2 linked regions of the Homo sapiens genome follow. The protein of the gene in region 2 interacts with the protein of the main gene of each other region in a pairwise test. Each region holds a gene or a part of one and is shown on either strand. Other genes may lie near its edges. The genes, in order: DAB1 and MBNL3.

Region 1 (3,600 bases), on a different chromosome or scaffold from region 2:
TATCTTAGTGCCTGCGCAGTTCCGGTGCCATCCAGAATCACTCATCACGGAGATCACAAAAACAATGGGTGCTAATTCAAGGGGTGGGGATGGTTTGTAATTTTATGGATTTCCCAAAGACCTATAATTGGCACATAAATGTACCAACGTGAACTGGATAATTAGGCGGTTCTGAACGTAAGCCACCTTTAATTTAATTGATATGATTACTTGAAAACGTTAAGTGTTGTAAAGTGTAGTGGAACCCCCACACAGCCTTTATTCAAAACTATCAACACTGTTAAAGTGTATTTAACCGGCCAGCAGGAAGGGAGCAGGAAGGAGGAAGAAACGACGGCGCGGATTCTCGCCCCGGTCCCCGCCGGCTGGCTAGGAGCTGCACTGGAGCATCCAGCTCGCAGGAGGGCTCGCCCCCGGGCTCGCCCCCGTCCAGCTCCCAGGCGGAGAAAGGCGCTCTCGCTACCGCAAGCCCTACATCGCCCCTCTTTCTAATGGAGCTAAACACAGGCGTGCGCCGACATCCAAACGCACACGCAGACACCGACCCACGCGGGCGCGCACCCCAGACTCGGCGACACATACACACCGGAGCGCACAGATGCCCGCGTCGCGGCGCTCTCCACTCCGCCCGCCGCCAAGAGCGGAGCGGTAGCCAAGCGCCCCCGGCCTCCCCACCCCCACGCCATTCCTTCAGACTCTCCCAGCCTAAGCGGAAGTGCCCCAGCAGACCCCCAACAATGAGGATTTGTGCGATGCAGTTGGGGGTTGGGGGTAGTTCACACGGAGTGAAACGTACACAGTCTGGCGGGTCTGGGAGCAGCCAAGTGGCGTCCGCCTCTCCAGGCAGCGATCCCTTGTGCCCACTGCCCCCCATCAGGCCCACCAGCACCACCAAAAAACAAAAACAGAGAAAAGAAAAAGCGCCTTAAAAAGTGCAGAGAAAAGATGCGCCCTCCCACCAGGGGTCACAATAATACTCCTCGGGACGCAGCCAGCGGAGGCAGGGTCCTGGCTGCAGCAGCCACCCTGGTTTTGAAATTTACTTTGTACACTCACCCAGTGGCCCCTTTCAGACGCCGCGACACGACCTCCCCCCATCTCGGACTCCCTGCCTCTGGGTTCTCTCGGCGGTTGACACCCTCTTGTGTGCCTGCTTTATGAGCCGAACCACAGAGATTTAAAGTTTCCTTGGTAGAAAAAAAAACTGAGCTCTCTGCATCCAAGTCAGAGCGTCGAGTCTGGAGCAGAGAGAAGGAAGAGGGGCGGGCTGGGGAGGCGACTAGCTGGGCGTGGGGGGAGGGGGTGCTGGGGAGTGGATGGAGGGGGACGAGCGGCAGAGAACAGAGTCCACAGAGGATCCGAAGAAAGGCCGGGGTCCGAGGAACGCGGGATCCAGTTCTCACGGTGCCCGCGAAAGGGCTGGGATTACTGGGATAGAGTCGGTTTTTCGAGAGGTCGAAGCCGAATCTCAGCGCTACGGAGGAGTAGGGAAGTGAGAACGGGGTTCGGCCGAATGAGGAAAAGGGTCTGGCCACCAGCGAGGGAGGGAGGGAGTTTCGGGAGCCCAGGACAGCGGGAGAAGGCAGGCTCGAGGTCCGATATAGCCAGGACCGCAGGAGGAAAGAGGGCGCAGGGGGTCTTGGAGAGAGACGCGTGTCAGGGGTGGACAAGTCTGGAGACAGGATCGCGCGTGGTCGGAAGTAGGGAGACAGGGGCGCGGGGATGGGGGGCAGGACAGAGAAAGAGAAGTCGCCCTTTTCCTCCCAGCAAGTGGAGGGAGAAGGCGAAAAACTGCTGCAGTCGCCATCCTCCCAGCACCCCTAGCCAAACTGCTGAGTGGCGCGTCCCAGGAGCCCTCCTCCGCGCCCCGGGGCTCCAGCGAAGCCTCCTGGCTCCCCGGCGCCCTGTCCTCGCGGGGCACCTGCGGCGCTGAACTCAAGGGTTGCCGCGCGCCCCCGCCGCGCCTCACCTCGCCTAGCCCAGAGCATCCTCCTCCGCTGCCGCAGCCGCCCAGGAAGCGGCTCCCCATGCCCGGCGGGCGGCGGCACTCAGGCGCGCTCTGCAGCCCGGGGAAGCCCGGGCGAGCGCCGAGCTGGGTCCATCCTCCCCGGGAGCCACCGGCCCCGCGTCAGAGTAGGGGGAGGAGACCGCCACCCGCGCGGACCCGCCTCCTCCCGCGGCCCCCCGCCCCGCCGCCCCCCGCGCCCGCCCGGCGCCCCGCGGCACCGCTCACCTGCTAGCTCCCCGGCCGCCGCCGCCGGGCCGTGAGCCCCTCGCCCCGGCCTCGCGGCTCCCTCCGGGGCGCTCTCTGCGCAGCCGGAGCGCGCTCCGAGAGCTTAGCCGAGTGGCGGTGGCGACGAGGAGGTGGAAGAACGAGCGAGCGAGCGAGCGAGCGAGCGGGGGCGCCGCGGCTTGCAGTCGCGCCTCTGGAGCCCCTGCACTCTCTCTCCATCCCAGCGTGGAAGGGGGAGAGACGAGCCGAGAGCGAGGGGTCCCCGCCCCAGCCGCGCCAGCGTGGAGAGGGTAAGGGAGGGGGGTTGTCACAAAGTATCCAGTGTTTTCTCCCCCATCACCACCACTGGACGCAGCTCCGCCTGGCCTCTCTCATTTTTCTCTAAGATCTACCCTTTTATCCAAGCCTCGAAAACATATGCATACCCAAATATATGGAGTGCCAGGAAGGGCGAAACCACGAGGGGAGTCTCCGCGAGGGCATGTTGCCCCCACGCCCCTTGGCAGGAGGGGGCGCTCGCTCCCAGCCGCCAGTGCAGGTTCGGCGGCTCCTGTTTTGACTGAGGTTTCCCAGGCAAAGTTCGGCAAGTTGGGAGGGAGAAGGCTGGCACGTGTCAAGTTTCCGTCAGTCCTCAGGAGAGACCCGTGCCCCTGAGAGCACGCAGACCACGGTTAACTCCGGCTTACTCCCCGCGACTCCCCTACTCGGCTCTTAGAATGACTGGGAGTAAACAATCCTCCGATTCGAAGCTGTGCGGGAGGCGGCTCCAGCGAGTACACAGTCAGTTGCTCCTTGCTTAGGGTCCTAGCTCACAAAGATCCTAGAAACACCAAGTCGCAGAAAATATTGGGTCATTCTGAAAATTCTTCCACCTTGAGACTAGATTCAACTCCAGAAAATTCCTGTTGTGTGGCATACCTGTCTCCAGAGGCCTGAAATGCAGGAGAAGAGAGGAGCCTGGTGAATCAAATCAAGTGCATAATATGTAGATTCGCACAGCACACAAACCACCCTGTTGGACCCAGGTGCAGAAAAGGAAAGCAAGAGGCAGGCAACCCTTCCTTAAAAAGTTTACCGTTACTCTTTTTGGGGCTACACTCCTGTCTTCCAGCTGTATAATAACAAAGATAATGTGATGGATTTGTGCTTTTCTGTTTTGGGGTGTTTTTTTTTCTCGTAGCTTCTGACACTCACCCATGAAAATTTAATGAAGCATTTAGGGTTGTTACCTCCAGAGTCAATGGGCTAAAAATATTTAGCCTAATGCACTCCTTGTGGAGCCAGTAGGTCCAGGGCTGGTACATACAAAGTCATCAAGAGACCCTCCCTTTCTCCACAAAATTCACGACCCATTAAACTTATTCCAT
Region 2 (4,018 bases):
AGTTCTTATTTATAGAGGCTTGCTGTCCATTTCGGTATGTACCATTTGCTTTGTTAAGTTCTTGTAAGGTTTAATTCTAAAACCTATTAGCATTTTTAAACCATCCTTTCATGTCTACAGTTCTTTCAAAATCCCACTGTGCTTATAATACTCCGTGAAACTTGCCCCTGGATCAGATTCTTTGGAGAAGTTTAACATTACTTTACATTTTTTTTTTCTCAGCAAATTGCACGTTACTTAAAAAACATGTCCCAGCAACAACAATTAGGTATGCTCCAAATTCTTAAGGAAACAGGAATGCTTGTGTTGAGTAACTATCCTACCATGTGTCCAAAAGGGTAATGCCATGACCTCGTTCCTGTGGATAACAAAGGTCTCAAGGTATCTCTATTTTCTTTTGGGAACTCTACTGTCAGTGCACACACTGTGACAGATCTGCTTTTCATTTCACCTAAATAAAGAAAAGCATGCTAGAAGAGTGAGATAAAATAAACTGAGTAGCTTTAGAGATATAAAATTTCCAAATTTATCCCAGCAGACCAGATGGCAAAGGTCAGTACTAAAATCATAAACCATAAAACAAAATCTATCATTTCGAATGCCTTTTATTACCATTGGGAGAAAATGGTTTTGCTGAACATTTTAACTAAGACAGAAGACCTACTTATCTGGTTGTTAAAAAGATTTCCCTTTGGTATAAACGGGGAGTGTCCCCTTCTCTCTCTTGAAAGTTGGCAGCATGGTATGATCATCAGAACCAGTTATGTTCCCTAGTAAACTACAAATTGGGGTGAAACCTAGATGAACATTCAACAGGTAGACGCTGGTAAGGTAGTACTGCTTGTTTATTTATGGCTGGGGTTTATCCTGATGGGTCAGTGCCCAGTTCCAATTGGGTGGTGATTGTACTATTAAACTCATAAACCTGCCGAAGAGGTGTGAGACTGTGGATGAACTAAGTATCAACCCTTTATGTCTCTCTCTTTTTTTTTTTAAATACAAGCTGCTTTCTGTGAACTCAACCTGAGCTATATACATGAACAAGGTAAAAATGTCTCTTTTATAAAGCATGTCCACTATGAATCCTTAAAAATATAAAAAGCTTGAATTTCTTCATGAAGCCCTCCTTTATTTAATCTTACCTCTATCAAATTCTTATGAGCCAACTTGATCTCACTGCTAAGACCCTGCTGTGATCAGTTACTTAAAAGGGAATTTTATATTGATATTCACAAGTAACAATTGAAGGCCTATGATATAATATTTAGCTCTCTACGTGGAAATTTGAGGCTGACTTGTAACCTATGCATTCTATCAAACACACTCAAATAATCAGAAATGGACAGATGCATATGAAGCTATTTTCATAGCTTATAATTACCCCTTCAAAAGCATTTAAGACAAAAAGAATTTGGTAAAGTCTTTTTTAACATTCATTAACAGATTATGTTGTTCAGATCAAGGGAGAAAGTAAGTTTGTTCTACTTTGGTGCTCAGATCCTTCACGATGTAATGAGTTCAGTTCTGACAAAAAGTGGAGCCAGTCCAAAAATGGTACTGTGTCCTTGAAACCATAAACTACCAGGAAAAGGGAGCAATTTGCAGTATTTGGCTTAGACAGGAGACATGAGAGTCACTCTCACTTGGAATAGGGACTGACTTCTTTTGTGAAGTTCCAGTTGCAGCAAGATAAATTTCAACTCGGTATGAGGAAAACCTTCTTAATAGGGATGTTTGAAAATAAGTGTCTCTCTGTTGTGAATAGGCAAAGTCTCTGTCATGGGAGTCCAAACTATGAATGTTTGTGAGGAGATTTAGCTCACAGTGCATCTCCTGGGCTTCAGGGTCATGTCAGTGCTTTTTCCACACCCAGGGAACATGAGGTTTCCTGTGGGTTTTGTCCTTTACTGGGGCTGTTATGCCTTATTACACAAGGAAAGGTCCAGGGAGAAAAAGAAAGACATAGCAAGCAGCACATCAAAACAACGGACAGCTGTGGCAAACTTAAGTCACGAGAATTCCTGGTTCTCAGTGATCACACTGCAGTGTTACACAAATATTTTTCCTGCTTCCTACCTTTCAGTATTACTAAGCAGCACTAACTGTTCCCCCAAAACTGGCTTTCTACAGCAACTTAAAAGTCAGGACTCTGGGCTGCGCACGGTAGCTCATGCCTGTAATCCCAGCACTTTGGGAGGTTGAGGCAGGAGGATCACCTGAGATCAGAAGTTCAAGACCAGCCTGGCCAACATGGTGAAACCCGGCCTCTATAAAAACTACAAAAATTAGCCAGAAGCAGTGGTGCACGCCTCTAGTCCCAGCTACTCAGGAGGCTAAGGCTAGAGAATTGCTTGAACCTGGGAGGCGGAGGTTACAGTGAGCTGAGATCACGCCACTGCACCCTAGCCTGGGCAACAGAGTGAGACTCCATCTCAAAACAAACAACAACAACAAAAAACACACAACCACCCCCACAAAACAAAACAAAACAAAACAACAACAACAACAAAAAAAAAAAAAAAAAAAAAAAAAACCAAAGTCAGGCCTCTGCTCCCAACCACGTAGAAATTTCCCCCCAGACTAAGCAGGCTGCTGTCCTTGATACTATGCCTCTAGAGAGGAAAAGTGGCCTTAACCTTTAGGAAATTACAACCTACTTAATACCCTATCTTTTAAGTGCTGTGTTTTTGAAAGGCATTAAGGATGTTAGTAGCAAAGGGCCCATGAAAGTGGCTCACAGAGCAGAGGCAACTTTCTGCCTCTCTAGGATATTGAGGGTAGTGAAACTATAAAAGCACTCAAAAATAACTTACTGTTTAAATTATATAATTTACCCTTACTCTGAAAATGGGAGAAAGAGCACAGTAGGTTAAAAGCATTAGTAAGGCTTTTAAATAATTATCTTTAGAAAATCTTAGTAAATAAAGTAGAATAAATAGGTTCTTTCTTTTCCAGCTTATAACCTTGACTGTTCATATTAAGGTCCTCTCATGACCATCCATGAGTATGGTTACAGGATATTAGACAAATTGAGGAATATACAAAGCATTTACTCTGAAACAGGCCACAAGTGCAGGCCTTTTCTTACCATGGCAGAGGCAGCTGAATGGTTCATCTGATGATGAGCTGCCTTGAGTCTGGCTTGCAAGTGTGCAGGAGGATGAAAGTACTTGCATTTCTCCCGCGAGCATCGACCTTTGATGTAATCCATGCAGATTGTCACAGTATTATCACTCGCTTCAATCATGGAAGCATCAGTAGGGTGAGCATAGCGGCAATCATTCTCCCCACGGGTACAATTTCCACGCTGAAATTCTCGGCAAACCTTAGAACACACACATGCACATACACACGCATCACACTGATGACTGGAAGCTGACTGGCTTTTATTTATTTTGCTAGTGAATGTAACAGTAATTATATATACATTGAATATATTATGTGTGAACAAATCTAAAAAGATAAAGAATAATGTAAAGCCATATTCACTATGAGATATAAACAGACAGAATTTCTATTCCCAGAAAAAAATTCTATTCTCCCCAAAAGGAGGTTGTCCTTACATTGAAATAAAAATGTTTAAAAAAGTATTACTGAAAACCAGTTTTAATTCTCCAGTTAATACACAGCCTTAAGCATAATTAGTGTTTTTTTAAGTCCAAGATGAGTCTTTATCACACCATAATGCACTGGTTTTCCAAAGTCAACTTGTGAACCATAACTGAGTTATATGTACAATCAGATTATATTACAATACATTACTAGGCATTTAAGCGGCTGCAAATGGAGCTGACTTTGTAAGGAAAGACTAGTTATTTCAATGTACAAAGAATAACAATAGAAGAATGAAGGACTTCAATAAATCAAAAAGCTGTTTGAAATTTCTTTCAGATTTTCTTTTCTTAGGCATCGGGGTTATTTACTGCCTAGCACATCACTCTCAAAATGGAGAAAAAAGTTGAGGCACTATGAGACTAATTTACCTTCTGTGTTCATATAGCTTTACATTCTGCAATCG

The links.
Region 1: the proteins of MBNL3 (region 2) and DAB1 interact in binary tests that used the Homo sapiens proteins (3 or more experiments, as listed by UniProt).

What each region holds. Positions count from the first base shown.
Region 1 is NC_000001.11:57,421,961-57,425,560, forward strand, and holds the start of DAB1 (disabled homolog 1), read right to left. Parts: upstream 2,101-3,600; 5' UTR 1,970-2,100; intron 1,153-1,969; exon of another isoform or gene 1,057-1,152; intron 1-1,056. UniProt on the Homo sapiens protein: Signaling adapter of the reelin-mediated signaling pathway, which regulates the migration and differentiation of postmitotic neurons during brain development.
Region 2 is NC_000023.11:132,387,759-132,391,776, forward strand, and holds part of MBNL3 (muscleblind-like protein 3), read right to left. Parts: intron 3,326-4,018; coding exon 3,089-3,325; intron 1-3,088. UniProt on the Homo sapiens protein: Mediates pre-mRNA alternative splicing regulation. Acts either as activator or repressor of splicing on specific pre-mRNA targets. Inhibits cardiac troponin-T (TNNT2) pre-mRNA exon inclusion but induces insulin receptor (IR) pre-mRNA exon inclusion in muscle.